Homo sapiens: one gene and its partners. The protein of the gene in region 1 interacts with the protein of each later gene in a biochemical or structural test. Each region holds a gene or a part of one and is shown in the gene's direction. Other genes may lie near its edges. The genes, in order: PBK, SYNPO2, CDK1, PARD6G, DLG2, PDZRN3 and FRMPD2.

What was found.
Region 2: the proteins of PBK (region 1) and SYNPO2 interact in a test that uses a peptide from one of them, tested with the Homo sapiens proteins (one large-scale study listed by IntAct).
Region 3: the proteins of PBK (region 1) and CDK1 form a complex in vitro, tested with the Homo sapiens proteins (2 studies listed by BioGRID and IntAct, with this or other methods).
Region 4: the proteins of PBK (region 1) and PARD6G interact in a test that uses a peptide from one of them, tested with the Homo sapiens proteins (one large-scale study listed by IntAct).
Region 5: the proteins of PBK (region 1) and DLG2 interact in a test that uses a peptide from one of them, tested with the Homo sapiens proteins (one large-scale study listed by IntAct).
Region 6: the proteins of PBK (region 1) and PDZRN3 interact in a test that uses a peptide from one of them, tested with the Homo sapiens proteins (one large-scale study listed by IntAct).
Region 7: the proteins of PBK (region 1) and FRMPD2 interact in a test that uses a peptide from one of them, tested with the Homo sapiens proteins (one large-scale study listed by IntAct).

Annotation. Positions count from the first base shown.
Region 1 is NC_000008.11:27,816,829-27,821,396, reverse strand, and holds part of PBK (lymphokine-activated killer T-cell-originated protein kinase), read left to right. Parts: intron 1-702; coding exon 703-832; intron 833-1,736; exon of another isoform or gene 1,737-4,568. UniProt on the Homo sapiens protein: Phosphorylates MAP kinase p38. Seems to be active only in mitosis. May also play a role in the activation of lymphoid cells.
Region 2 is NC_000004.12:119,052,436-119,057,003, forward strand, and holds part of SYNPO2 (synaptopodin-2), read left to right. Parts: intron 1-4,568. UniProt on the Homo sapiens protein: Has an actin-binding and actin-bundling activity. Can induce the formation of F-actin networks in an isoform-specific manner.
Region 3 is NC_000010.11:60,788,478-60,791,914, forward strand, and holds part of CDK1 (cyclin-dependent kinase 1), read left to right. Parts: intron 1-3,412; coding exon 3,413-3,437. UniProt on the Homo sapiens protein: Plays a key role in the control of the eukaryotic cell cycle by modulating the centrosome cycle as well as mitotic onset; promotes G2-M transition via association with multiple interphase cyclins.
Region 4 is NC_000018.10:80,163,308-80,167,875, reverse strand, and holds part of PARD6G (partitioning defective 6 homolog gamma), read left to right. Parts: intron 1-4,568. UniProt on the Homo sapiens protein: Adapter protein involved in asymmetrical cell division and cell polarization processes. May play a role in the formation of epithelial tight junctions. The PARD6-PARD3 complex links GTP-bound Rho small GTPases to atypical protein kinase C proteins.
Region 5 is NC_000011.10:83,460,962-83,465,529, reverse strand, and holds part of DLG2 (disks large homolog 2), read left to right. Parts: intron 1-3,436; coding exon 3,437-3,528; intron 3,529-4,568. UniProt on the Homo sapiens protein: Required for perception of chronic pain through NMDA receptor signaling. Regulates surface expression of NMDA receptors in dorsal horn neurons of the spinal cord.
Region 6 is NC_000003.12:73,386,880-73,391,447, reverse strand, and holds part of PDZRN3 (E3 ubiquitin-protein ligase PDZRN3), read left to right. Parts: intron 1-331; coding exon 332-430; intron 431-1,569; coding exon 1,570-1,632; intron 1,633-3,378; coding exon 3,379-3,480; intron 3,481-4,568. UniProt on the Homo sapiens protein: E3 ubiquitin-protein ligase. Plays an important role in regulating the surface level of MUSK on myotubes. Mediates the ubiquitination of MUSK, promoting its endocytosis and lysosomal degradation. Might contribute to terminal myogenic differentiation.
Region 7 is NC_000010.11:48,180,115-48,184,682, reverse strand, and holds part of FRMPD2 (FERM and PDZ domain-containing protein 2), read left to right. Parts: coding exon 1-117; intron 118-3,674; coding exon 3,675-3,880; intron 3,881-4,568.

The DNA of each region.
Region 1 (4,568 bases):
CAGCTACTCGGGAGGCTGAGGCAGGAGAATCGCTTGAACTTGGAAGGCAGATGTTGCAGTGAGCCAAGATCGCGCCACTGCACTCCAGCCTGGGCAACAAGAGCAAGACTCTGTCTTGGAAAAAAATAGTTAACTTATAATTATTTATTTTATAAGTATAAAAGGTTAGCAGAAGTATCTATTTCTAAATAAACTTTTAGACTTCTGGTCAGTATGGCAGACTGAGATAACATGGGATGTTCCCTTCTCTTGTTTCAAATACTTTGAAATGCTGGGCACAGTGGCTCATACCTGTAATCCCAGCACTTTGGGAGACTGAGGCAGGCGGATCACTTGAAGCCAGGAGTTCGAGACAGACCAGCCTGGTCAACATGGTGAAACCTCGTCTTTACTAAAAATACAAAAATTAGCCAGGTGTGGTGGTGCCCGCCTGTAGTCCCAGCTACTTGGGAGGCTGAGGCAGGAAAATCACTTGAACCCAGGAGGCGGAGGTTGCAGTGAGCCGAGATCGTGCCACTGCATGCCAGCCTGGGCAACAGAGTGAGACTCCGTTTTAAAAAAAAAAAAAAAAATTTTGAAACGCTGGACAAATGTAAACCTAGAGTTTAGGAAGGGAGTTCAAGTTGTTATATTTGGAGGTTATCACATTTTTTTATTAGTTTGTGTTTCTGCACATATGTGTTAAATTTTTTACTATTTTAGTATCTGCACCAAGAAAAGAAACTGCTTCATGGAGACATAAAGTCTTCAAATGTTGTAATTAAAGGCGATTTTGAAACAATTAAAATCTGTGATGTAGGAGTCTCTCTACCACTGGATGAAAATATGACTGGTAAGTTGTACTCTTAAGTTTTAAAATTTTGTTTTTAATACAGTGTTTACATTTTTAAATACGTAAGTCCACATGGATCAAAAATCAAAAACTATTTTTAAAAAGTATATGGTAAAAAGTCCCCTTTTTTTCTCTCTCTCCCAGTCAGCCTGCAGTCTTCTCCCTTGCCACATGTACAGTATAAATTACTGTATTATTATTAGTAGTAGTATTAGTATATATTTTAACTGGAGTTATCTTTGGGAAATATTTCTAACTGGATTGGGATCTTTAAGCAGTAAAGCATCTGGGAATAGAAAGTAAAATTTAGTAAGGTTGTGTAAAGCGGTTTATTTAGCATGAGTAAAGTGACAAGATTTAGGAAACTGGTAGAAGAAACTGGAATGAAGCAGAAAAGAGGGGTGCTAATGAAGGCTGGTCTTTGGCTCTTTGCCCTTTCTTCTCTATTGCATAGCTTCTCAGGGAATTTAAGATATGTTCTTGGTGAGAAACAAGAGCCAGCCTCAAGAGAAAGCCTCTGCTTGCAACATATTATTTAGTAAATAATACTTAAATTTGTCTCTTTATATCAACAGAAGTTAAACAAATGGTTAATAAATGCTGTTTAGAACATATAAATGCCTGAATTTCTAGCTGAAGTAAAAGTTTACAAGTTGAGTTGAAGGCAAGAGTCAGAATGAATGGACAGACTTTATAAATAAATGATGTCTGTAATCATTAATAAAAATAGAACTGTTGTGAAACCTTATGCTAAATAACTTACAAAATGGGAACTTTAGAAAGTAAAAGGATAAATTGTCAAACATAATAAAAATGAGGGTTTTTAAAGTATTTTTCTCAATGCTTAATAGAGCAAACAGACAAATGTAAGGATGTTAAAGATCTGAGTAAATAGTAAGGCAAGTACCTCTGCACCATAATATTTATTAAAATTGACCATATTCTTAGATCACACAAAAAAACTTCGAATTATAAAAAGTATGAATAGTCTAATAGGTGATATTCCTTAACATCAATGCTGTAAATCTAGAAATTTGTAATAAAATAGGAAACAAAAACTCCAAACTTTTTAGGAATTTAAAACACTTCCGAATAATTTTTGGCTAAAAAGAGAAATCAAATTCCATTTATAAAATATTTAGAAAATATAAGAATATAACAAGTCAAACCCTATTTGATATGTTCAAAACTACTCAAAGGAAACATTTTCATTATTTAACTTTTATGAAGTTAAGTTGAATATTCAACTGAAATTGAAAAAAATGACGCCCTAAGAACAGAAAGCAGAAATGAATGAATTTGATAGCCTATAAATTCTACATAATCTTAATGTGATCTATTCTAGAACATGTCAGAATTAATCTGAAGTTCCTCTTTGAGGATACATGTTCAATCAAACATGGCTGGGAAAACTCGATGAAAGGAGGAGGAATCTTCCTGAGCAGATAAAAAGTTTTATAAAGCTACAGTAATTAAAGCGATGATACTCATGCCAAAATAGGCAGAAAAATAGAACATGAGAGTCAGGAAATAGTTCCCAAATAGAGGAATTTGTTGTGTGATAAAGGTGACATTTTTGTATTAGTGAGAAAAGAGGTAGTTTAGTCAGTAAATGATGTTATCTGGACATTTTAGAAAAAAACACAGCTGTTTTCTATCCTTACACTTGAATCCCCATATATTGAAGATTGGGGGAAAAAGTAACAGTAGAAAAAATTGTAGATAAATAGTTCTTTAATGTTGGCTGTGGAGAGGACTTTAAAGAAGACACCAAAGCTAGAAACCATCATTAAAAAGCCATGGGTACCTCCATTTAAAAAAAAAGAATTCTATATCACAGTGGGTTGGAGAGGGGCAGGGAGCTTAAGACATTAGAAACTGAGATAAATGTATAAGATATTTAATATTTCTAATGCATTAAGAGTTATTAGTAATCAATGAGAAACAGATAAAAGCTCTATTATGAAGAGACTGTTGAGAAATGAAAAAAATGGCAATTAGGAAAATATATATGTAATGTTCTTACTAATGTTTTAAAAGCTAAATAACAATGAGATAATCTGCTATCAACACTCATCACACTGTGTAAATTATCTGTTAAACGTTTCTCCATTCCTCCATTAGGCTTGTAAGCTCTAAGAAGGGAACCTTGTATATCTTGTCCACTGAAATATCCTCAACTCTAGAATAGTGCCTGACTTGTAAATATATTATTGAAGGAGTAACAAGATTGCTAGTAAATAAAAAGATTGCTAGTATGAGCAACAATGTAGGTTAACATGTCCTCTCATACACTAAGTAGAACTTGTAACTGCTGTTTTACTGAGGTTAGAATAGGTTTTGCTGTGGTAACACAGACCTCAAAAACTTCAGTGACTTACAACAACCAAGGCTTATTACTCAAGCTGCATGGCCATTAGCACCTTGTTCTGTGTCATTCTCCCTTTAGGACTTATACTGATGGAACAGCCACTATATGGAACATGGCCACCATTATGGGGAGGGTGAAAAAGCATTGGAGTGGTACTGTCCAATACAGTAGTTATGAGCTGCATGTTGCTATTTACATTAATATTAAAACATTGAAATTATTTTCTCAGCCACCCTAGCCACAATTCAAGTGCTCAGAAGCTACATGTGGTTAATGGTTACCACATTGGACAATGCAGATTTAGGAGATTTAATCATCATAGAAAGTTTCATTGAACAATACTGCTCTAGAAAGTCTTGCAGTGATAGTTAAATGCTCAAGCTCAGAAATGACACAAGTCATTTCTTGTGGTAGAACCTTTCAGGTGACAGTTTGGAAAGCTGTATTTAAAATAAGAAAAACCTTTAAAAATGTTTATGCCCTTTGACCCTATAGTTTCATTCTTAAGAACACAGTCCAAAGAAGTAATTGAGTAATTAGGCAGTACAGGCATTTTTTTTATAATAACCTGATATATTATTTCCTGCAAAACTTCATTGCGCAAAAGTTTCAAGATATAACTAGGTTTATAGAAAAAAAAAACAGGGTTAAAACCTATGCAACTTTGAAAACTAAAGCAGTAACAAAAACAGTTAATAATCCTAATAAAAGATACTAACACATTAAATCTGCAAGGGCATAAACATTTTAAAATATTTTTCTTATTTTAAATGCAGATTTCCAAACTGTCGTCTGAAAGGTTCTACCAGAAGAAATGACTTGTGTCATTTCTGAGCCGGAGCAAGACTTTCTAGAGCAGTGCTGTTCAGTGAAACTTTCTATGATGATAAAATGTTCCTTTGTAGCCATAAACCCTGGGTTTATGCTGAAGGTTACATATGAGAGTATTTTCAATAGATACTTTTCATCAAGATGAAAAATTTGATCTGGCTTTCTCACTAAAAATATATATATATTTTTAAGCGTGTGGGAAATGTGTTGGCAGCTCCTTTACCTGGACTCACTCACAGCTTTTGTAGTTAGCAATAGCAATTCTTAAAGCTACTACACCAGGCATATGCTCAGGGAAGGCATTTCTGTAGGCAAAGGCTTTCTATTTGTGAGATTTGCCTCTGATCACTTCAAAAATAACATTTATGTACTGGGAAAAATATCAATCTTTTTACTGTTTCAAAAATACACATTGTAGCAGAACAGACTATGCAACAATGTGTGAGAATGTCCACCAATAAGGGGTGGTTTAATTTATACTACCACACAATAGAATACCATATATCCATAAATTATACGGGTTTATATTTATAG
Region 2 (4,568 bases), on another chromosome or scaffold:
TTTCAATATCCCATAAAAATGTCCCTCTCTGGGCCTGTCTGGCCCCAAGAGTAAGAGGCCAGAACATGATGTTGCCAAATCAAGTAAAAACTTTCTTCTCCTCTTTTATTCTACTCCTTTTTTTCCTCCAACCCCAGGGGGCCAGAAGGCAGAGTTAGCGACCTGAGAGAAGAAGTGGAAGTAGAGTGAAGAAGTCAACCACACTCCTTCCCTGAAGGAAGGCAGCCTTTCTGAAGCAGGCCCCAGCTGGGGAAGGAGAGGAGATTTAACTCTAATAAAGTTGAAATTGGAGTTTGTTATTTCAGGGGATGGCATCATCTATTTCAAAATAAAACTGGTTTGAGTAACTTAAGGTAACCATTGAACTCTTCCTAAAAGTAAGCAAAATGTCCCAGGATCTGCTAAGTTTTCTTCCAGTGGCAGCAGAAAACTTTTTTTTATTAAATAAAGTTTAAAAGGTAGTGGGAGACAGAAAGAAGCAATTTGATGGGTAAAGCTAATTTAACATCTTGGTTACAGTTAAGTGCTCTCATATAAAAATATTAAATTCCCTTGATGATGATATAACCCATGGTGGAAGTGACAACCCAGGACCTAATCCATGCTATGCTAGGATTCCAGCGTCAGACATTCAAACTCCAAAACAAAAGAAACACCTCTGTTACTTTCAGGTTCCTTTGGTCGTTTCTGGCTCAGGGTATATCACATGGCTTCATTCAGCCAGCCAAACAGAGAACAGCCTGAGCCTTGAAACTGTGATGGACAGAAGGAAACAGCACCAAAAAACACTGTGAAAATTGCTTTGGGGAAATACATTAAAATTAGAAGTATGGGTGCCAGTAGAGGCTAGAGGCTTGCAATATTTTGGACACAAACAGAAACTACATTGTACCTATGGAATGATTTATTTATATCCCAGTTGGATCTCTAACCTAAAATGGTTTATCATCTTATCCTCTATTACTAGCACTTGAAAGAATGTGAAGGCATGTTCGTCAGTCTGGGGAAATGTAGAAGAGCCATGGTCATTTTGCTCATTGAGCTGGTTGCTCTTCTTTCCTCACTGCTGTTACATTTGTCATATGCATGTTTGGCGTGAGATTTTTGCTTTCAGCTTCAATCCTAGGTTTTAATTTCCCTTCAGAAAGCCCTGGCTTACTCTTTCAATACCATACCTCAATATTTTAGTTTTCTCCCTGCATATTCATCTCTTTGTTAATAGGATATCACTGAACAATATTTTGAACTTTATAAATTCTGTCAAGTTTCAATTCTTCTGAATATTTTCAAACTCAGTGCATAAGAGAAACACCAAAAAATAATTCCTCTCTTTCATGTAATGTTTTGGATGTCTTATCACTGCAATGTATGCTTTCACATAGTACTTAATACTCCCAAGTATATTGATAATTATTTCTTTTTCCAGTTATTAGCCAGTAAATTAAACACCTGTATATATGTTCAGGGGCCTCACCGAGATTTCTGTAAAGTCTTAGCTCCCTTTATCTATTGCCATCCCCTCAGCCTTCTATCTTTTAAAATACCTAAATAACTGACTAAAGCAGTCCCTCAAGGTGCTACATCTAATTGATGCAGGATTTTTTTTAGCCTCTTTGCCAGACTTGCAACAGGGGTGCCCTGTTTACTCAGCTCACTGTGCTCAACCCCTTGAGGGAGGGAGCACATGAGTGAGTGAGTGTGGGATCTGGCTGGCCACTCCGGGCGCCAGCAGGAGCAGACTTCATGTGTGGCCCACAGCGGTGCCCAGGTGGGGGTGCTTGCGACCCCAAAGCCCCAGAGGGAGCGTTACAGTGCTCTCTTAGTTCTGCCGTCCACAGACGGTGGTTTGTTAGCAGCTCAGTTGGCCTCTTGCCTCATTGTGTGGGGTGGCTGCCCTTCATCCGTGAGGGCAAAGGGCCGGTGTGATGGCCTTTTTGGGTACCTGCACTCGGTGGGTCCCAAGCTCTTGTCCGGCGTCCAGGAAGAATGAGGTCACACAGACAACTGAAGGGCAGAGAATTTTACTAAGCTACGAAAATGGCTCTCAGTGGAGAGAGGAGCTAGACAGCGAAGAGGATGGGCAGGTTGTCTTCCCCTGAAGTCAGGTCATCTCTTCTGTAGTCTGTCCATCTCCCTCGAAGTCCAGCTGTCTCTCTGAAGTCTGGCCGTCTCCTCTAAGGTCCGGCCATCTCTCCCTCTACCGACTGAGTCTGGGGTCTTTATAATAGGCACACGGTGTGGGTGGGGTGGGCCGCAGGTAGTTTTGGAAAAAGCAACATTCCACTGGTAAAAAGACACTATTCACAAAGAACCAATCAGGAGAGAATGGGCAAACAGGAATAGAAGTTCTCACTTTGGGCTGTAAGTTTCAGACTATTTTGGCTTGAAGGTGGGGTTTCACCAGGGATCCACCTCTGTCTGCCTAGAATTTGTCTGCCTCCTGCCTCTATCATAATCAAAGACCACACAAAGCAAAATCATGGGACTCTGAAAACTCTCCCAGGGCCTCTGTAGACCACTGTTGTTCTAATTCTTCCACAGAAAGGACAAAAGTGATATACAGACACACACCACAACAGACAGCTACATTTCTCTTTATCACACTGAGTCTTACCACTTCTCACAGTTTAGAAAACTTCCTATTTTTTCCTGTCAAGACAGTTAAAGAGTCTCTTCTCTATCTTCTCTAAACTGATCTTGTTTCTTATTATTTATTTATTTATTTTTTTTTTTTGAGACAGAGTCTTGCTCTGTCACCCAGGCTGGAGTGCAGTGGTGTGATCTCAGCTCACTACAACTTCTGCCTCCTGGGTTCAAGTGATTCTTGTGCCTCAGCCTCCTGAGTAGCAGGGATTACAGGCCTATGCCATCACACCTTGGAGAATTCTTTTGTATTTTTAGTAGAGATGGGGTTTCACCATGTTGGCCAGGCTGGTCTTGAACTCCTGATCTCAAGTGATCCATCTGCCTCAGCCTCCCCAAGAGTTGGGATTACAGGCGTGAGCCACTGCACTGGCCCAAACTGGTCTTCTGTAATTGACTTAATTCAGCTACTGTGGGGCTAAAACTAGTACTGGATTGTGTGCTTATTGAGGGCAAGGACTTTATCATCTTTAAGTCTTCAGCTTATAGAAGAATACCTGGAAATATTAGGTGTACAATATGTTAATTTATGTTAAATGAGTCTATGAAATGAACACATACATAATGTGAAATAGAAACTAAGGCCTTAAAGGTGACTAAAAGTCAGGATTCCCCACACCTCACCCAAATATAGAGTAAGGAGAATTATGAGTGGTTCTGAATTAAGACAAGATTAGTGAAAGCAAGTTTTTGCTAAGATTCAACCATTGTAAGTAAAATTTAAATGATTAAAATGAGAGAATCAAGATTTATTATATTGGACCCCTTATTCTTCAGATAGAAACCAGGAATGAACCATCTACCTTCTTTGTGTACCTAATAATAAAAAAAAAACGAAACATTTGAATCTGAGATATTTTGCCTAAATCCAGGTATTGATATTCACTTTAAAGTTAAGAACTTGATTAAGAGAAAAGCTGTTGAAACTGTTTATGAAATTAGAGCACATTTTTAAGCATGGTAATGTTTTTTGTTAGGAAACAGGATGTTTTGATACTTTCAAAGTTGATACTCCTGTCCCCTAGGTGTACCCTTTCTGCGTTTTTGCCAAGAGCTTATCTCACACAGCCTCATGCATATTGGAATGTGTGAAGATGTAATGTGGATAGCCAGCCATCAGCATTCCTAGAAATGCAGAGGAGTAAAAGGAGAGAATGAGAACACAAGAGGTTTCATTAAATTATATTGCTGTAGCCAGGCACCGGGGCTCATGTCTGTAAGCCCAGCAACTTGGGAGGCTGAGGTGGGAGGATGGCTTGAGGCCAGGAGTCTAATACCACCAGCCTGGGCAACAGGGAGATCCTGTCTGTAAAAAAGATTTTTAAAAATTTAGCCAGGCATAGTGGTGTGCACCTGTAGTCCCAATTACTTGGGAGGCTGAGGCAGGAGGATTGCTTGAGCCCAGGAGTTTGAGGCTGCAGTGAGCCATGATCATGCTCTGCACTCCAGCCTGGGCAACAGAATGAGACCCCAACTCTATATAATAATAATTAATAATATTCCTGTGTTATTAGTCAAGCTGAATATTAAGTATACACAGAGGAATGTTGCAGGGATACAAACTCTCAAAGAAATAGGAATGTAATACACATGAAAGGAAGCAAAATGCAAATTAAACAAGAGGCAGGAGTAATTCCCTCAGAGACAAAGGCAATACACTCCACTCAGGAAATAAAAATCCATGTGATCGTCACCATATAAATAGATTTTGAGCGGAAAAGGGCCAGGCAGTTAATCATACCAGTAATGTTAACTACATCTAAGAAGCTCTGGTTTGTTTTTGCTATATTCATTCACTAGACCAACATTAGATAACAGATTAAAAGTCACTTGGGAAGAGTAAAAAGCTCAGTAATGTACAGCTTGTTTCTGAGGTTATCAATAGGTTTTGTTTATTTTGTACCAGCAAAGCAGGATAGGAATAA
Region 3 (3,437 bases), on another chromosome or scaffold:
AGGAGTTTTCCTAGCTACAGTTTTTACATTTTCATTATTTTTTACTTTATTTATTTACATCATTCCCATCCTTTGTTGTACTTTAATTCTTTATATTAAACTCTCCCCATTCAAATCACCACCTTGGTTTCTGTCTCCTGACTGAACCCTCCCTGATTATAGTCAGATTGATTCAAAGACAGGTTTTGTTCCTTAAGGTATATTATTTCTGATACATTTAGGAATTGCTAACTATAATTTATGTTTGATCTGTGTTATATTGCTGACTTGGCATTTAGTGTTTCTGAAGGAAAGGGAACATTGTATAATAAAGGATTATTGAAAGGCTGTCTTCTGTGGAGTTGTCTACCCTTGACCCAAAGACTGTCTCCAGATCAAAACTAGTAACAGTGCTCATCTGATTAGATGTCTTGGCTGCTTGTTAGTCTTTATCATTTTTTTACATGGCTATATAAATAAACTAAGATTATTTTGTTTTCTTTGTCTTAAACAAATGCTATTGACCTCATTAGCTTTGTTCTAACAGGCAATATTTTTACCATATGATAAATATACTAAAATGGTTGGTTAGTTCTAGATCACTAATCTGTTATTTGACTTATTCACGTTTTTTAAATAATTTAAAAATCATTTTTTATCGACGCATTATTATACATATTTATGGGGTACAGTGTGGTATTTGGATACATGTATGCAATGTGTATTGATTAAATTGGGGTAGTTAGCATATCCATTGCCCCAAGCATTTATTATTTCTTTTTGTTGGGAACATTCAAAATTCTTTGTTTGGGCTATTTGAAAATTTACAGTAAATTATTGGTAACTGTAGTCAGCTTACAGTGCTGTAGAACACTAGAGCTTATTTTTCCTTTTGAGCTGTAATTGTATCCATAAACCAACTTATCTCTGTCTTCCTCTACTAAGCCCTGAATAACCACTATTCCACTCTATGGCCATTAGATCAACTTTTTACGTTTTCAAATATGAGTGAAAACATGTGGTATTTATCCTTCTGTGCCTGGCTTATTTCATGGCTCATCCTTGTTGTCATAAATGACAGAATTTCATTCTTTTTTTATGGCTGAGTAGTATTCTAGTATTCCATTGCGTGCACGTATGTGTGTGTACACTACATTTTCTGTATGTGTGTATGTATACACCACATTATCTGTTGATGGAAACAGGTCGATTCTGTATCTTGACTATTGTGAATAGTGCTTCAATAAACATGGGAGTGCAGATATCTCTTTGACATAATTGATTTTATTTATTTTGGACATATACCCCCAGCAGTGGGATTGCAAAATTATATGGTAGTTCTAGTTTGTAGTTTTTTGAGCATCCTCTAAACAGTTTTTCATAATGGCTCTACTAATTTAAGAGCCCACCAACAGTGCGTAAAAAGTTGCCCTTTCTCTGCATCCTTATCAGCACTTATTTTTTGTCTTTTGATGATAATTACTCTAACTGGGTGTGATAGCTCATTGTGGTTTTGATTTGCATTTCCCTGATGAATAGTGATGTTGAGCACTTTTTCATATACTTGCTGGTCTTTGTATGTCTTTTGAGAAAGTTTTATTCAGATTGTTTGACCATTTTTAAAATTGGATTCTTACTATTTTTTTTATTCTGGATGTTAATTCTTTGTTGTATGAATGATTTGCAAATAATTTCTCCCATTCTGCAGATTGTTGCATTATTCTGTTATTCTGTTCATTCTGTTTCTTTTGCTGTGCAGAAGCTTTTTAGTTCGATATAATCCTGTTTGTCTATTTGTTATTGCTGAGACAGGGTCTTTCTCTGTCACCCATGCTGGAATGCAGTGGCGTGAACAGGGCTCACTGCAACCTCAACCTCCTGGGCTCCAGTGATCCTTCCACGTCAGCCTCCTGAGTAATTGGGCCCATACACAGGCATGCACCACCATGCTAGGCTGATTTTTAAATTTTTTAGAGACGGGGCTGTCAGCATATTTCCCAGACTGTTCTCGAACTCCTGGGCTCATGCAATCCTCCCGCTTTGGCCTCCCAAAGTGTTGGGATTATAGGCATGAGCTGCTGCACCTGGCCTCATTTGTCTATTTTTGATTTTGTTTCTTGAGCTTTTGAGGTCTTATCCATATGATTTTTGTCCAGATCAATATCAATAACAGTGTTTCCTCTGTTTTCTTCCAATAGTTTCATAGTTTAAGGTCTTATTTAATCCATTTTGAGTTGATTTTTGTGTATGGTTAGATATAGGGGTTTAGTTTCATTGTTCTGCATGTGGATTATCCAGTTTTTCCAGCACCATTTATTGAAGAGATTGGCTTTTCCCTAGTGAATGTTCTTGTCATCTTTCTCAAAAATGAGTTGACTGTAAATACATGGATTTATTTCTGGATTCTCTATTTTGTTCTGTTGGTCTCTGCGTCCTTTTTTATACTAATATCATGATGTTTCGGTTACTATAGCTTTGTAATACATTTTTGAAGTCAGGTGATACGATGCCTTCAGCTTTGTTGTTTTTGCTCAAGATTGGTTTAGCTATTGTGGGTCTTTTTTGGTTCTATATGAATTTTAGGATTTCTTTTTATTTCTGTGAAGAATGTCCTTGGTATTTTGATGGAGATTGCACTGAATTTGTAGATTGCATTGGGTGGTAATATGGTCATTTTTATATTAATTCTTCCAGTTCATGAACATGGGATGTCTTTTTTGTATCTTCCTAAATTTTTTTCTTCAATGTTTTATAGTTTTTAGTGTAGAGATTATACATCTCATTTGTTAAATTTATTCCTAGGTTTTTTGTACCTATTGTACATTAGATTGCTTTCTTGATGTTATTTTTCAGCTAGTTATTGGTGTATAGAAACTATTAATTTTTGTATGCTGATTTTGATTTTGTATACTGCAACTTTGTTAATCAGTTCTAAGAGTTTTTGGTGGAGTCTTTTAAGTTTTTCTATATATAAGATCATCTCTGCACACAGGGACAATTTGACTTCTTCCTTGGCAATTTGGATGCCCTTTATTTCTTTCTCATGTTTCTTATTCATGTTATAATGGTACTGTTAGTACCATCTTAGCAAGTAAGCAGTACCTGCACTTTGTTCAGTGTCACCCCAAATCTATTATCAATGGGTTTGGTTTTTCAGTGGGGGGAAGATAAGGCTGTATAACTGTCTTGATCTTTAGTGATTTGAAAAGCAAAAAAATATTTATTATGCTTTTATCTGTTTTGTCTTCTAATGAATAGAACTTAGAAATGAAATATTTATCTTCAATTTTGTGTACCTTTAATTGACTTAAACAATATTATTGGTGGCAGTCATACAACCTTTAAAGGACAGCCCTAATAAAAATATAAATGTTTAAGTGTAGGTAATTTTATGCACCACATTTATTCATTGTAAAAATTTGCTTTTTAATAGGTAGTAACACTCTGGTACAGATCTC
Region 4 (4,568 bases), on another chromosome or scaffold:
TTAGTTTATGAACCCATGGCATCAACCTCACCTGAGTGTCCTTGAGCTGCACCCCAGGCCCAGGGGTTCAGAACCTGCCTTTGTACAGGGTGGTCTGTGTGCCTGCTGCTGAGAGGTGCTGCACCATGAGGGGATACACTCCCTGCTGCTCAGAAATCCCCTGGGCGTTCATCTTAGGCCATGTTCCCATGGTCGTCCTCCCTACGTGGCTCAGAGCATCAGAGACGCTGGGGGAGGAAGAGAGGACAGGCCTGGGTACATCTCATGGCCCCAGCTCCACCCTCTGCAGCGCCTCCTCCCAGGACCCCAAGTCTGTCTGGAAACATGGTGGAGCGTTGCTGCTGCCTTGCCTGTCATGGGGGTTACACAAAAGACCTTCCCTGTCCAGGCCATTCCGGGGCCCTGAATCCCTGAGCCTGTGTCCCTGTCCCCAGGAGTACCTGCTCCAAGCTTGCTGCCCTGAGTGAGCTGCTGCATGAAGAGCCGTGCCCTGTCCTCAGCACTGCCCATGTGTTATCCTGCACACACATCCACACGCAACACTGCCCATGTGTTATCCTGCACACGGGTCCACACACAACACTGCCCATGTGTTATCCTGCAACACGTCCACACGCAACACTGCCCATGTGTTATCCGGCACACAGGTCCACACACAACACTGCCCACGTGTTATCCTGCACACACGTCCACACGCAACATGATGCTCTCAGGCAGGAACCACAACAGAGGACCCACAGCAGGGATGTGACCTGTGAGGCCCAATGGGTGTCACTTGTAATTGTGAACTGTCACTGTTTTGATTGGCCATTGTCTTGCCCTGAAAAGTGGTAATTATTCCATACGGTGACACACGGAGCCCTGCACCTTTAGATGCGCTGAAACTCCCTTGGAGCACAGGGCCAAGGCCAGAGGGGTCAGCATGGGATGTTAGGGTCTGGCCAGCACGACTGAGATCAAAGGGGGCTCTGGTTTGTTGGATCCTCAAGTGTTTGCAGTTGTGGGGCCCCAAAAGAGGTGGCTGTGGTGTGGAGAAGGGGCCCTGAAGGGACTTCTGTGAGAACAGCCCCCTTATGGTCGGGGGAGGACCAGACCTTCCTGGTCTGCAGGGAGGGCTATGCACTCCCCTGAAGTTCCCCGGGAAGGTGGACATGGGGAGTGAGGACCCTGTGGACTGTCTCGTGCTCTGAGGATGTAAGGAGCCAGGACAGGATGAAAGGGGCACGTACCTCCCCTGCTTGTCTGACGCTCTCTACAGAGGACATTTACCAGAAACTTGAAAATGCTGCTGTAAAAAAGCTGCCACGGAGCTGTTGTGTTTGGGGCAACTAGATCTGACCATGGAGGAGGCTGTAACTGATCGCTTTCAATGAACTTGACGCCTTTAAATTCTAAGGGAGGTGGAGATTTTCCACTGAGACAAGGCGTCCTGATGCCCCCATGACCGAGGGTCACACCAGCAGTGTCTGCCATGGCACACGTGCCCCAGACTGTGTCGCCTGCTTAGCAGAATGCAGTGGGGCTGCTGAGAGAGACACTTGCAGCCCTGCATCTGGGCCTTTGTTCTGCTTGGGGTGCGGCAGAGAGGAGGAACACACTCATGATTGGGGTGGTGTGCTGTGTTGGTGCCGACCTGACCATACGGTGTCCATGAGCTGAGGCTGTGTGCCGCTGACATGACTGCCTTCATCTCAGAAGGAAAAATACAAGGGAACAGTCACATTTGTTTACAGGTCCAAATGGTGACAAAGTGGTAGCTATGTTAGGAAATAAGCGGAAATGATAATTTTTTTTTTTGAGATGGAGTTTTGCTCTTCTTGCCCAGGCTGGAGTGCAATGGCACGATCTCAGCTCACTGCAGCCTCCGCTGTCTGGAAGCGATTCTGCTGCCTCAGTCTCCCTACTAGCTGGGATTACAGGTGGATGCCACAACGCCCAGCTAATTTTTGTATTTTTAATAGAGACAGGGTTTCACCATGTTGGTCAGGCTGGTTTTGAACTCCTGACCTCAGGTGATCCACCCACCTTGGCCTTCCAAAGTGCTGGGATTACAGGTGTGAGCCAGCGCACCCAGTGGAAATGATAAATTATGTTTTCTGGCAACTTCCTGGAGGTTAACAGTTCAACACCATGTTTTTTCAAAACAAACCTTTACTAAAATTTTAGAGGCAAAGACATATCCATTGCGGGAAGTCAGGGACCCTGAATGGAGGGACTGGCTGGAGCCACAGCAGAGGAACATAAATTGTGAAGATTTCATGGACATTTATCAGTTCCCAAATAATACTTTTATAATTTCTTATGCCTGTCTTTAATCTCTTAATCCTGTTATCTTCGTAAGCTGAGGATATACGTCACCTCAGGACCACTGTGATAATTTTGTTAACTGTACAAATTGTAAAACATGTGTTTGAACAATATGAAATCAGTGCACCTTGAAAAAGAACAGAATAACAGTGATTTTTAGGGAACAAGGGAAGACAACCATAAGGTCTGTCTGCAGGGTCAGGCAAAAAGAGCCATATTTTTCTTCTTGCAGAGAGCCTATAAATGGACATGGAAGTAGGAGAGAGATCACTAAATTCTTTTCTTAGCAAGGAATATTAATATTAATACCCTGGGAAAGGAATGCATTCCTAGGGGAGGTCTATAAATGGCCACTCTGGGAATGTCTGTCTTATGTGATTGAGATAAGGACTGAGATACGCCCTGGTCTCCTGCAGAACCTTCAGGCTTACTAGGGTGGGGAGAAACTCTGCCCTGGTAAATTTGTGGTCAGACCGGTTCTCTGCTCTCGAACCCTGTTTTCTGTTGTTGAAGATGTTTATCAAGACAATATGTGCACTGCTGAACATAGACCCTTATCAGTGGTTCTGCTTTTGCCCTTTGCCTTGTGTTTGTTGGATGCTTATCAGTGGTTCCGCTTTTTCCTTTTGTCCTGTTCCCTCAGAAGCATGTGATCTTTGTTAGACCGTTATTAGTACGTCTGCTTTTTGCCTTTTGAAGCATGTGATCTTTGTACCCACTCCCTGTTTTACACCCCCTCCCGTTTTGACACCCTTAATAAAAAACCTGCTGGTTTGAGGCTCAGGTGGGCATCACGGACCTACCGATAGGTGATGTCATCCCTGGTGGCCCAGCTGTAAAATTCCTCTCTTTGTACTCTTTCTCTTGCTCAGCTGGCTGACATTTATGGAAAATAGAACCTACGTTGAAATATTGGGGGCAGGTTCCCCCATTACATATCTTCAAAAGGTTTAATTTGAGGTTGGCTAGGATTATATTTTACATTATTGTTAGGTGGGTAAACAAGGCTCCCCTCTGCTCAAGTCCTTGAAGGCCCAGGACCCCCCAGTTTCATCCTCTTACTATGGGCATGACATTCAGTTGTGACGTGAAGAGCAGTGTGGACCCGGTGGAAACACCCAACCATGAAAGTTAAAAGCTGGAGCCTTTTAGACACATGGAGAGCACATCACAGAGGCAACGCCCCTCACAGGTTGGAGGGTTTGGAGTGCAGGGGAGGGATTTGCAGTAGTTGGGACTTGGCCAGGAGGAGGGGCTGTTAGGATGGCCCCTAAGTGTTTTGAGGGAGGAGAGGCCCACTCAAGACTGTGGGGCCCATGGACAAAATACAAAGGCCAGGTCCTCACTCCCTGCTTAGTCTCTCTGGCACCAGAGCCAGGGGCTGTTGGGCACCCATTCTAGCCTTGAGGAGGTGAGGGTCCAGGCTCTGTGTGTGGGGTGCAGCAGGTGGGGTAGTTATTGTCCACACGTGTTCCGTCCTTTTAGGCTGCCTCTTTCTGATCTTTGTACAGACAGAGCAGACTTTTGATGGGGCTTTTTGGTCTATGCCTGTTGGTGCATCCAGGTTGCTGGTGCCTTCAGCTCCAAGTCTGGGATGACAAGGCTAAAAGAAAACCCAAGGAGCTGCTGCCATGTTGCTTCTCCGGTCCTGAGGCCCCAGCTAGTGCGACTTCTCTCCTGCGTCATCTTATATTTGTTGTTTTGTATGTAACATCCAGGGTTTTTGTTGAACTTAGGAGGGATGGGAAGAACTACATGACTTCTGGGAAGCAGAGGTCCACACACTTGCTTTTATTGGTGCAGGGAACCCTGGTCTACCTAAGTGATTTATAAGCCCCTTACGAGGAGGGGCCCGGCCCGCTGTGCCCTTCTCTGTATCCTACAGTTCTGGGCTTGAGCCTCAATCCAGTCCACCGTGCACCACGGCCAGAGCACTTGCTGCCCTGTGGGGATGGCCGAGATGCTTCCACCTGGCCCTTGTGACGCAGACAGGTTTGTGGTTTTGGTGGAAGGGAATGCACCATGCGGAACAGGGGTGGGGCTCCCGGGATGGGTGGCTGTGAACTGGGACTTGAAGACAAGCGGCTCTCAGAGGGAGGTGAAATTGAACCTCAAACTCTGTGAGTCAGTGGTAGAGAGAAAGAGGATGCTTGGAACAGTAGGTGTCACCTCTCCCGGGCCAAGCCTCACTGTACTCTGCCCGTGTGTGGGACAGGCGGCCAGGCTGTTTCACACATGGACACACACCATTTCTTACTCCC
Region 5 (4,568 bases), on another chromosome or scaffold:
CCTTGATCAAATTTTGCCTTCATCTGGGCCTCAAGACCATAGTGTTTGACAGGGTTCAGGAGTGAACCACAGAGTACTGGAAAATAATGTTTATGGAAGGACCGAAGAAACAGAAATTATTTAATCCCAGTGGTGAAAGCAATTGCTTACAGAGGATATTAACTGTTCTGTGTCTCCTCTGAAGACAAAGAAGCAAAGCAAACTGCAGCAGCTGGAGTGGCAGCCTGAGAGAATTAAGTTAAATACATAGTTGAGCTCTGGGGAAATAGCCAGAGATGTACCTTGAAAGCAGAATATAGTCCCATATATAAAAAATGGACAAGGATTCTTACCAGGATAAAAAAAGTAAGATCGGGAGGTCACTGACAGTACCTTCAGCCCCATGAATTTAGGTATTAAATTATAATATAAAGAGTTTTTCCCATGGCTGGCACATGGAAAAATATGTACTAATGATAAAATAATGATTCTTAATATTATCATCCCCAATAGCATGTATTAAATTTCTCCTTGTATAGGATACTATGTCGGGCATTGCACAAAGTGAATTAAGCAAGTACAAATTTCATGATGTAAAATTGATTTATAATCTGTCAAGAGCCTCATAAATATAAGTAATGCTAACATTAATGAGAAGAAAAATAGTCCTTACTTCCTGGGAACAGCCATCTTAAAGGCCTGTTTCAGAAATAGAAAAATAAATCTTCATATTGTAAACACTCAGTGGGATAAATGGCTTCCCAGGGGAATGAGGCCTGAGGGAACGACAGCAGTGGCACATTTGGTCCGGTGCAATATTAGGAGACAGTCCCATCTGGCATTCCATAGGAGAAGGTCTACTGCCTTCCACAACTATGAGATGACTTATTTTAGTTATGCCTTAGGGCACTGTCACAGCCACTTATCACCAAGGAAAGTTAAATGTACTAAAGGCTGGACTTCACAATAAGGACAGTGAATCTGACATAATTTGCTGCAGCCATATTCATGGGTCTCAAGTGCAGTGATGGTGACATTCAGACCAATGCAATCTACCTACTAAAGGTTGGATGTTTACTTTACAGTTCACTCTTTTCCAAGGCTTTTACTCCAGGAGCAAAGCTGCCATGAATTGCCCATTCCCCAGAGAGTAGTGAATGCTAGGTCAGCCGGAACAAAAGCATGACAGCTGTCACATTTACACATTGATACATCATCACACACATTATTTCTCAAGTGCATCATCCACATCAAATCACAGAGCTTATTAGCACATACATAGCTGACTCTTCAGAGGAGCATAAAATCAAAGATGTGTATGAAAGGGATGTTCTTTTTATATTGTGCCACCATCTGACTTCTGTTCCCTTTCCATGTGGCAATCTCCCTTCACCCTGCCACTTCCAATCTGCTTTTACCTTCCTGCTCCCATGATGCTCTGTGTTTACTTCTGTCTTCAACTATCTTATAATTATGTTTATCTAGCTCCCCATTTGTTCATTCATTCATTCATTTACTCATCTATTCATTCAACAAATAAATGTTGAATCAGTCTCCATGCCACATGCTGACAAACAAGCCATGGTCTTCGCCCTCAAAGAATTACTGATCAGTCAAGGAGACAAAATAAATTCACAGGTCAGAGAATAAAAACCTAAACTAAGTCATTGCTGTAATCAGTAAAAAGGGAATTCAGAGAAGACAGAATTCTTGGAAGGCAGGTCGAAGATGATCCAGAACTATGTGATTTCTTTCTTTGAGACAGGGTCTTGCTCTGTCCAGCCCAAGCTGGAGTGTAGTGGTGCCATCATGGCTCACTGCAGTCATGACCTCGTGGGCTCAAGCCATGTTCCCACCTCAGCCTCCCAAGTAGCTGGGACTAAAGGTATGTGCCACCATACCCAGCTAATGTTTGTATTTTTTTTGTGGAGACAGGGTTTCACCCTGTTGCCCAGGCTGGTCTTGAACTCCTGAGCACAAGTGATCCACCTGCCTCAGCCTCCCAAGGTGTTGGGATTACAGACGTGAACCACTGTGCCTGGCCCACATGATTTCTTGACATCTGGAGCAAATATTTATCTTTCTCTGAAGAGTGTCCCTTGGTTTAGCCCAGCATCTTCTCCACCCACGAGTAACATCCATTCACAGCATGTACAGCTGAGACTGTTTGGAAGAAAAATTATACATAACACCCCTCAGGACAAGATGAGTTTAGCAACAAGAGTTCAGGAAATTCTCACTACTTTGTATTTCAGCCATTAATGTCTAATGTCAATATATTGTTTTTTTTTTTTCCAAATAGCCTCTTTTGAAAGATATCAAGTCTTGGTATAATAGGAAGTCTAACTGAAAATTGGTTTAAAAAACCAAAACCTTGAGTTCTTACCCCAGATTACTCTTCGTTAAATACACAGCCTTAAGCACATCCCTTCTTGCCTCTGTTACTTGCTCTCGAAAGGAATTGACTAAGGCCAGATGTTCCAGACCCAAATCTCTGGCTTCCTAAGCAGCATGCAAGACGGTAATGATTTCAGAAATTCTACATGCACCTGTGATGCATCCTGATCAGCCAACCAAATTGCATTTGGCAGGACATTTTTTTTTTAACACCTGGAAGACCCGGAAAGATAAAGCTGCCAGTAGTTAAGAATCAATAGATTAGGTTTTAGAGAGAATTCAAGAATTTTTCATTTCTCTCCCACCTTGATTTATCCTTGAGCCTTTTAAAAAAAATTTATATATAATAGTTGTACAAATTTTTGGAGTATATGTCATATTTTAATACCTGTATACAATGTGTAATGATCAAATCAGGGTAACTGGAATATCCATCACCAGAAATGTTTTGGGAACATTACAGTTCTTCTCTTCTAGCTATTTTGAAATATTCCTATAACTGCATTTTATACCCCTTAACCAGCTTCTCTTCATCTCCCCTCCTGCCTTCCCTTCCCAGTCTCTGATAACTACCATTCTACTCTCACATTTCAGAAAGTCTGAGATACACTAGAACAAACTCCAAGAAAGGGTGGTCAGGAAAGTTCAGATTTAGAAATCACATCCAATGAGGGGATAGATGAAGCAATAGGACAGTTTATTCTGAAGAAGTAGAAGCCTCAAGACACACTTAAGCACTTTACTTAAATATCCTAGGGCCTACCATGGAGGATATTAGGTCCCTGCAGAACAGGGACCAGTGACTACAAATCATAAGGAGACATATTTGGCTTCAATCCAATGTGGGACCAAGAGACTGCCCTTTGAGAGAATGAGCTTTCTGGCCGTGAGTCCTTGTTGCTGAAATTATTCCAGCACAGAGGAGTCCTGAATGAAGACTAAAAACCTGTTGCTAAGATTACACTATGTTTTCTGTAGGATTTATTTTTGCCATACATTTTAATTTTTTAGGATTTGGAATATTCCCTTTATGTTCTAATACAAACCCTCATTTTCCCAGGGAGATGAATAAGCGTCTAACAGAGGAACAAGCCAAGAAAACCTATGATCGAGCAATTAAGCTAGAACAAGAATTTGGAGAATATTTTACAGGTAAGTTCACTTTTACCCTGGTAGTGTGAGAAAGGGGATAAATTGTCTGACATTTGGCACAGAGAGGGTTCTGGGCCTGGTGTACTTGTGCCCTAAAACCTTCCTGTTGAGAATCCCTAATATCTGTTTCATATACAAGGAGTATCCCTCTGCTTCACCCATTTTGATGTAAAACCCTGGGTTCTCCTGAGAGTTCAGCTGCAGCCAGCTCCCAGGTTCCCACCAGCCCTACCCAAAACCATGGGCAGGAGATACCCCTGAGCTATCTCCTACCATGAAAAGGATTTGAGGCATTGCTACCTCATTAAACTATCTCCCTGATATCATCAGAAAACTTGAAAAACAAAATTTTAGGGCTCAAAATGGTCAGTGTCCAAAGCAGTTACTCTTGAGAAGAAGCTTGGAGGCGTCCGTCCCCAGCTCCATGAGCTTTCATCAGTGTCCCTATCAGCAGCACCTGAACAAGATGCTTAAAACTTCCTCATGTTTCAGTTCACTGTGTCAAGTCTCAACCAAAACTGCTTTTTTTTTCTTTTTAAATGTTTCCTTGGAAACATGAAGGGGAATAGAGGTTTTCTTCTGGAGAGCCTGAGTTCTGAGTTCTGTATTCCTATATACTTTCATAGAACACTGAGTAATCAGACTTTGTGAAATTTGCCTTACACCTGGTTCCCGGAGGTTTAAAAACAAGAACTTTCGAGCTGGGCTTATGCCTCTAATCCCAGCACTTTGGGAGGCTGAGGTGGGTGGATCACCTGAGGTCAGGAGTTCGAGACCAGCCTGGCCAACATAGTGAAACCCCCGTCTCTACTAAAAATACAAAAAATTAGCTGGGTGTGGTGGCAGGCACCTGTAATCCCAGCTACTAGGGAGGCTGAGACAGGAGAATCACTTGAACCCAGGAGGTGGAGGTCGCAGTGAGCCGAGATCGTGCTACTGCACTCCAGCCTGGGCAACAAGGGTGAAATTCTGTCTCAAAAAAAAAAAAAAAAAAAAAAAAAACCCAAGAACTTTCTTCCTGGATTACCATATGTGAAGTT
Region 6 (4,568 bases), on another chromosome or scaffold:
TTCTTGTTTGTGGCAGACATTGAAAAAGTGTTTTTGAAAAGCCCTGCCCCAGAAGTCTTGACGCTGAGTGAAATATGGGTAATTTTTCTTTGGGGGATCAATGAAATAACTATTTTCAAAATGACTTTATATTGAGTGAAAGGTCAGAAATGCCGTAGGCATTGATCCTGTGTCCATAATCACTTTTTGTTTAGTAAGTTAACCGGCCCTACACAGTTGAATGCAAAGAAATCCAGTTCCTCATTTGAAGATAATATTTTTAAAGCATTTGACATCCCCTCAACTCGCATTGCCTGCTGGAGTCTCACTGGGAATGCCTTTCTTTGTCTAGGAAGTGGACCTCTACAGAATGAACAGCCAGGACAAGCTGGGCCTCACTGTGTGCTACCGGACGGACGATGAAGACGACATTGGGATTTATATCAGTGAGGTACAAAGGCTGATTTTGTTTTTCTAACTATCGTATCAAGACCAAAAGGGTTTTTTTTTTCATGTTCACCAACCCTAACCCACCTCATCAAGATCTCTTTGGAAAGACACAAATTATTCTGTCCCCCTCATCACACTCCATGGCGCTGCATCTTTCCACGGAGGTTAAGTTCTAATGCCAGTACTTATGGCAAAATTACCCTTGAGAAGCCTGCAAATCAGCCATAAAATGGAGCCGTTTACATGGTTTTGTGTGTTTAGCCCCAAGGGAAGAGCAGATTCACATTTCCCAACTCGTGTTCATTGAGTGGAATGGTGGATGGAATCACTTACACTTTTTAAAGCCTCTCTCTCTCTCTCTCTCACACACACACACACACACATTTTTTTTTCTCTTGGTGGAGTATATATAGTTGACTTCATATAAGTTAAATGTGACTTGTATGTACTTATCAAACTACATAGATGCACGCTGTTTTGATCTTCCTTGAGAAGATAATACAAATCAACTGATTTCAGTATGGAAACTTTACAGTGCACACCCATCCTTGCAAACACAGAAACCCAATTTTGTCAGGAAATAAAATTTGTCGCTACAGAATGATCTACTAGACTTAATAATTATCTCTTTGGTTGTATGTCATTCACCAAGCTTAAGTTAACCCATCCTTTCTGCATTTGGGGACATCCCTCCCCTTACCAGTCCCCCTTGTCCCAATTATATTTCAATTTTAAAGTTATTTTCCAAATTTTAATACAAGTATTTGGTATAAAATAAGGTATAGTTGCTAGTCCACATAATGAAGGGTATCCTTTAACCTGTTCTACATCATTGATTTGATTTTAATTACCATGCATGCAACAAAAGTCAGCTGTGCCTCCTCAGATCAGCAGAGCCTGCACACACTGCTGTGTAACAGGGTTGCTACACAGGGATCCAAGAACCAGCCCTAGAAAGGGCTTAGAAGCAGATCAGCTCATGTTTGCCTCTCCTTGCACGACACTAAGTCTTGTTTATTTCTGTGCAAAACAGAAACACAGGGGTGAGCATGACTGTGTTTTAGAAATGGTTTTGAAAGTGCTGTTGCTTATTTTCATGCATGTCTGCGTTTGCGCTGAGATGGTCCATGTGTGTTTCAGATTGACCCTAACAGCATTGCAGCCAAGGATGGGCGCATCCGAGAAGGAGACCGCATTATCCAGGTAAGTCCACTTCCAAACAATGGCCTCATGATGGGCCTATCACTAAAGAACAAACTGGTTCTAATGATAGGTCTAGGGTTGAAAATGCAGAAGCGGTTAAAGAACAGGGATCACAAACGCAGATGTGTAGTGAGGCCAGACAAGTTAAACTAATTGTGAGGCTATCTCTGAGTCATAAGACGCAAGAGGGAGTGGTGAGGACTGGGACAAACTAGATGGGGCATGTTCTCTCCAAAGAGGGCCTTGCAAAATTTGAGCCAGTTCTCCTTATTTTGTTTCATTCTGTTTGGATCAAAACAAACATCAGTGAGCCAAAGTCAGGCCAACAGTTTACAACTTGTGAACTAAAATAATTCTCGTTTTAGATTTCTCTGAAAGATTAACTTTGGACCAAGCATTTCAGAGGCTCGTCCATAAAAGGGGAACATTTTTGGCAAATTTAGCAGCATCGATTGAAAAGTCTTAGAAATTTTCTGACTCAACATCTAACCATCCTGGAATCGCTTCTAAGGGTCATTACTTGACCTCGAGCCCTGTTGCTCCGTCTAGTCCAAATGAGACCATTCATGTCTCTTTTGGCTACAACCTTCTTTAATCTCACAGAATTGAAATTCTTGGCTTCATTGTGTCCACAAGGCTTAGCTTTCTACCTCTTCTCATCCGTATCCTCTCATTCTTAATCCACTGTGTTTTTCTCATTGCATACCTCACCACAGGTCATTTTGATTTTCTTCTTCCACTGCCTACTCTGGGTTTCTCTAGCCTTCAGCCAGAACCTGTGCTGCTCAGGATCGCTTGCCCTAGGGAAGTGACCCAAACCTTCACACCTGAAGGGTCAGGGTCCTCAGCATACTGCCTCTTTTTTTTTTTTTTTTTTTTTTTTTTGATTGCTGGAGTTTTCCATTAACCTTTACTACTGAGAATGGAAGCACTCAGAGGTACTCCAAGGAATCCCCTAGGTTCCAGACACAATCCTCCCTGCCTCCACTGTGTCACAGCAAGCCCATCTTCCTTGGTAATTGAGGGCAATCACTCCAACCAATAGAGTCACCCCTTTTGCTGCCTGTTGGCTCACTAGTGTAAGGAGGCATATGGAAGCCTCCACTTCCAATTCAGTGGAACCATTGCTGTGTCCCCTGGAGGCGGCGTTCCACCAGGACTAAGACCTCCAGACCAGCAGGGCTCAAAGTCACCAGGACATGCAAGCAAAAATCCTGCAAGAGGGTTAATCAAGTGTGATAGTGAGAGTGTCACGCCCACTTGACCCTCCGCCTGGCCCAAAGAAGTTTAAGTGTCAAACTGGGGACACAAAACACCATGTATAATTCTATTCCATTTTCTTAACCTCAGTTTGCTGCTTTTTCTTCTATATTATCCAATAATGTCTACATATACTCCTGCCTGAATATTATGTCTAATTGCTTCCATGTTCCCTCTGCAGAGCATTATGATTTTTCTCAGTGCCGTCTTCTGGAGGTCCAGCCCCTTCTGTTCACACCCCACACATCACAGTCACCTCATGAACTATACTCATGGAGGCTCCCTTATAGACCAGAGAAACTGCATTGGTCTGAGCAAGACCTTTCCTTCCTAACATCAGTATTCTTTTCCAGCTACACGGAAGTTGTATGTTCTAACTGTGAGTGGGTGACAAATGCAGGTCTGAAATAAAATAGAATGATTTTGCACCATCTAATCATGCTATTTGTCTCCCCACTCTCCCCACCCCCCCTTTTTTTTTAAAAGATTAATGGGATAGAGGTGCAGAACCGTGAAGAGGCTGTGGCTCTTCTAACCAGTGAAGAAAATAAAAACTTTTCATTGCTGATTGCAAGGCCTGAACTCCAGGTAAATTGGCTTCCTACAGATGAAACTGGGTCTATATTTCTAAAATCAAAAGATCCCCAGGCCTGCAAAAGAGCACCTGAGTATTGGCTGCGAACTTGAAGGTGCTTTGTTCCCTGGAAATGTAATCAAACTTGCTGTGATTCAGAATTCACTTTATGAGTTAGCCATTTAAGGTTGGTTAGATGCCCACCCTGGCATCTATACTGCAGGCCCACGACGTTCATTAATGCAGGGATCATAGGGAAGGAAAAGGAAACAGAATTGAATGGAAAACACAACCGGGGTCACGTCAAGACATTTGACTTCCCAAGGCCTGACATATGTTCCAGCCTTGATCTGTGCAGGTTTCATTTACAATAGCAGAGTATGGGGAATTAAAACTTGCTCTTTCAAATTAAAAGAAACATTGAATGATAAATAATTAAAACTGATATGACCACCGAATAAGTGCTAGGCCCTCCGTGGAGCACTTTACACACAGGAGAGCCTTCCCAGGAGATGGAAGTTCCCAGAGATTCAAAAGTTACCCAGGAAAGGCCCAGAAGGAGGGTGATAAAGCAGGGAGGGGTTCAGGCCCAAGTAATCTGATTCAGAAACCTCTGTGTTGTAATAACTCCTTCCACAGGAGGAATCATGAACTCACCCAGGTGGCACTCTTGATCCACTTAGAATGGCTCCAGCAACACATCTAGGGCAATCCAGTAGTAGATCTCTTTAGGTATGTGTATTAGTCCGTTTTCATGCTGCTGATAAAGACATACTCGAGACTGGGTAATTTATAAAGAAAAAAGAGGTTTCATGGACTCACAGTTCCACATGGCTGGGGAGGCCTCACAATCATGGTGGAAGGCAAAAGGCACGTCTTACGTGGCAGCAGGGAAGAGAGATGAGAACCAAGCAAACGGGGTTTCCCCTTATAAAACTATCAGATCTCATGAGACTTATTCACTACCATGAGAACAGTATGGGGAAAACTGCCCCCATGATTCAATTATCTCCCACGAGGTCCCTCGCACAACACGTAGGACTTATGGGAGCTACAATTCAAGGTGAGATTTGGGTGGGGACAGCCAAACCATATCAGTATG
Region 7 (4,568 bases), on another chromosome or scaffold:
GAGGGCAGATACTAGCCCTGAATCACATCAGTCTGGAGGGCTTCACATTCAACATGGCTGTTAGGATGATCCAGAATTCCCCTGACAACATAGAATTAATTATTTCTCAGTCAAAAGGTATGTTTTAACCCACTCTTGGGAGCTTAAGAGGCTCCCCTGTTTTCAGGAGTACATGATTACTGTGAGGTACTAGACCTTGAAGTCCACGTAGGTCTTCTATATTGCTTTCCTCATGGTGTTGGCTTGCAAAGAAGCAGTGTAGTGGCACAAATTAATAAGCTTTGCAATTTCAGGGGCAGAATGGGCGTTACCATGCTTGTCTTGCTGAAAGGGAGTAACCTACTCTAATTTTGTTAGACACGGCTGGATACAACCAGTCTTTTTTTTTCTGTCAACTCTCCTTGCATGGCAGGGAGGACCTTTTTATTGCCACCCAAAGTCCTTGTTGATAGGGTCGGCTCCAGGATTTCTATATTTTGTATAGAATCCTATACAAAATTTCTATATTTTGTATAGGTATAGCAATCAGCTGGGGAGGAGACAAGCACTGTTCTTTGTTAATCTTTTGTTTTGGGTTTAGGGCTACATGTGTAGGTTTGTTATTACAGGCAAACTCGTGTCACAGGGGTTGCTATACAGACCATTTCATCACCTAGGTGCTCAGCATAGTGCCCAATAGTTATTTTTCCTGATCCTCTCTCTCCTCCCATCCTCCTCCCTCAAGTAGGCTCTGGTGTGTGTTGTTCCCCTCTTTGTGATCATGGGTTCTCATTATTTAGCTCCCACTTGTAAATGAGAACATGCGGTATTTGATTTTCCTTTTTTTTTTTTGAGATGGAGTCTCACTCTTTCACCCAGGATGGAGTGCAATGGCACGATCTTGGCTTTCTGCAGGCTCCACCTCCTGGGTTCAAGCAATTCTCCTGCCTCAGCCTCCTGAGTAGCTGGGATTACAGGCACGCGCTGCCACACCCGGCTAATTTTTGTATTTTTTAGTAGAGACGGGGTTTCAATATGTTGGCCAGGCTGGTCTGGAACTCCTGAACTCAAGTGATCTGCCCGCCTCAGCCTCCCAAAGTGCTGGGATTACAGGCATGAGCCACTGCACCTGGCCTTTTCTTAAAGCTGAATTTTCGTGGCAAGCTCGCTCTTCTTACTTGATGTGCATGTTCCTGATCAACCTAAAGAGTAAAGTACTTTTTGATGATGCTTTTCTTCATCCTTTAGATAAGAATGAGAGAGCAACAACTGCCTATATTAAAGGAAAATACTATTGTTTTTATCGGGACCAAGCTTGAGGAGCCTGGAGGAAGTAATGGGAGTAGGCTAACATCCCTTCTCCCTAGTTTCCTGAGACCAATGCTGCTTTTTGGTTGGGTGATCCTGTAAACTAACAGCAGACCGCCTGCAAATTCAGGCTCATGATTGCTTCTTCACACTTGAGGGGTGTTGTACAGTTTTCCCTTGTATACAGGAGAACTTCCTGTCACACCAGCCAGCATTTTCTAGGTACTAAATGCAGGCACTGCATTTGCCTTGCCTTCTGAACACTTCTGCATGCATGCTCTCTCACTCTTGTACCTGTACACAGTGCCATGCAGCTCCCCTGTCCAGAAGCTATGGGTGGTGGAAGGTGGCCATGCTGGGGTCTCAGCCCCACACCCTTCATCCTGGGGTTGAAGCCTTCTCAGGGACTGGCCTCAGTACATCTCCAATGCCAGTCTCTGGCTTGCTGTCTGTTGGATTTCCCAGCACCACTGCTCTCCTTTCTGCAGTGGTTCAGCAATCCCTGTGTTTTCTTCCACATCCTCCACTGACAGGAGCAGTCAAACCATCCCATGTGTTGTCAGGAAACACAATGCAGGTGACCAAATCACAATTCAGCATAGTCCAAGGATGGCCTGCTGTGATGGAGGTTGTCAAAAAGCAGTACTCGAGGTCTGCTATTCTCAAACCACAACCTCACATTAGAATTCCAGACAATGAGTTTCCCACAATGGCTGGGAATAAAATGTCCTTTCACTGTGGCACCCCAGCCACCTTTTGGCAATGCTGCCTTCATCATGGTGGGGTTTCCTCATAGCTGGGCCACTGCCAGAGGAAGATGTTTCCTTGGTGATGCTGGCTGGGTCTCCGTGGCAGAGACTTGACTACCATGACTTTCTTCTATCTCTTTAGGCTGCTGTTAAGGCAGCTGGGCTAGATTGGAGATCAGGATCAGACAGATAAAATGTCCATCATGAGCATCTGTCATGGTCTACAATAAATTGAGTTTCCTTTACCAAAAAAGGTCTCCCAGCTCATATGTCTACTAGGCAGGACACCAGTTGCAGCATGGTTTGACTTTTCATTTCAATCGTAAGTCCCATCCTCACCTCTCATGGAGGATGTGGAAGAGAATGAGCCGATGCTTATGACACTGCCAGAAGGACAATGATGACAGAATCTGTGAATGAAAGGGCCAGAAATACAGCATTATGAAACAGTGGCCCTGCCACTCCCTGCTGGATACCTTTAGATTTGAATAACTTCAAATCAAATTCATTAAATCAGATTTATTTAAATTGAATTCATTCAGCATGTGAGTTTGGGCACTTCCCTGAGTGTTAATGAGTCTGTATCAAAAGTAGTAAATCTACTTGTATCCAGGTCTAAAGAAAATCTAACTGTTATTCATTCCTCCCACATATATTTGTGGAGCAGCTAATAATAACATGTTAACAGTAGATACATTTATTGAGGCTCTACCATGTACTAAGCTGTGCGTGTCTGTGTGTGTGTGTGTGTGTGTGTGTATGAGAGCCATATATATATATATATATATGAGGGAATATATATTCTTTCATATATACATATATATTTTTATCTTTCTTAACATATGTAAAATCTTTTCTGTACGTATAATCTCTAAGCCTCACCAACTCTACAATATTATTGATATTGATATTATCTCTACTTTAGATACAGGAAAATTTAGGTTCAGTTATGTTAAGCACCTTGCCCAAGGTTTTTCTACTGATTCACAACCTCACGTTCTTTTCTTTGTTCTATGCCAGGTCACGAGTCAGACACAGGGTGAGCAGGAATCAGTGGCCTAGCTTTCACTCACAGGGGCCTGCAGTTTGGTTATTACCAAGCCTCCCAAAAGGACCTGATACGTTGGTTTTTGGATCACATGGTGGCTGCAGATGTGCTCAGTGGGGTGTCCAGGAGAGGCTGGGTTTAAGACAGTTCCCACATGCTGGCTGTAGCATTTGGGGCAGGACACTTAATAGCTTTGACTCTGTTTTCTCATGTTTGAACTGGGATTACACCTTCCTGGTGGGTTTGCTGAGAAGATGGGAAGATGTCCATATCTTCCTATATGTATATCTAAGGTGCCCATCACATGGCTAGAGCTTAATAAGGGATAGCTGGCCTTATGAACTTCTTTTGAGCCTACGCATTCATAGTTGGGTCACGTAAGCTCTATCTAGGTTTCTAAATCCCATGTAGAATCTTCCCTTTCTCTAATCTAAATGTAACATCTTTCAGGAGGAGCTAAATTCATATTGTACCCGAGCAGCTATAAACGATCACTCTGTCACTGGAGGAAAACGCTGTGCCCACATAGAGATGCCACCAAGAAACCGGCCTTTTTAAGCTGTTGACTTTTTCTTGGCTTGTTTTTATAGGTGTTGGTGGAAATAACCCAGATGAAGAAAAGAATAGCACAGCCAATTCTGGGGTCTCCTCTACAGACATCCTGAGCTTCGGGTACCAGGGAAGTTTGTTGTCACACACACAAGACCAGGACAGAAATACTGAAGAACTAGACATGGCTGGGGTGCAGAGCTTAGTGCCCAGGCTGAGACATCAGCTTTCCTTTCTGCCGTTAAAGGTAATCATCCCTTGGTTTACTTTCTAGATCTGGATGAAAGAGAACAGACTGTGAAGCCCAACAGCCTGGCCCCTAGGCCCTTCCTGTTCTCTGTTTTCCATGTCAGGTGGATGGAAGTTACTTAGCCCCTTTGAGCCACAGCTTCCTCATTTGCATACAGAAGCAAATGCCTGCATGGCATGGTTGTTGAGAAAAACGCATAGAAGAAGGCAGAGTTCTAGGACAGTGTCTGGGCACAGGCTCAGTGTGGGTGCCTCTGGAGTCTTTAGTCACTAATTATAATTGTTGTGATAATAGCACCATGAGGAAATTGATTGCTGCCAATGGCAAGGCGTGGGCAACCAGGCACCTCCTATTCTTGTCCTTGAATTGGTCCTCAAGCTGGGAACTCAGTGGCTTTGCTCTTGACCATACCCCATGGAGGAAGAAGATGGGATCTGGAGTAGGTGTATGGAGGGCTGTGTGCTTCAGTCCCAGCTCTGCTGTCCTCTGCCGTCTCTTTGGATTCCCAGTGGTGTTGTCTTCTCAGGCCCCGCCAGACCCATGCCCCAGCCTCTCCATTCTGCTCTGGGCCCTGCACAGCTGGTGCTCATGGACTGAGTCACCTTGCTGTGTTCTGCTTGGTTCTGCCCAGTCGAAGCCTCAGCAGGAGCCCGCAGTTGTGGGATGAGTGAGGACAGGGTGGCAG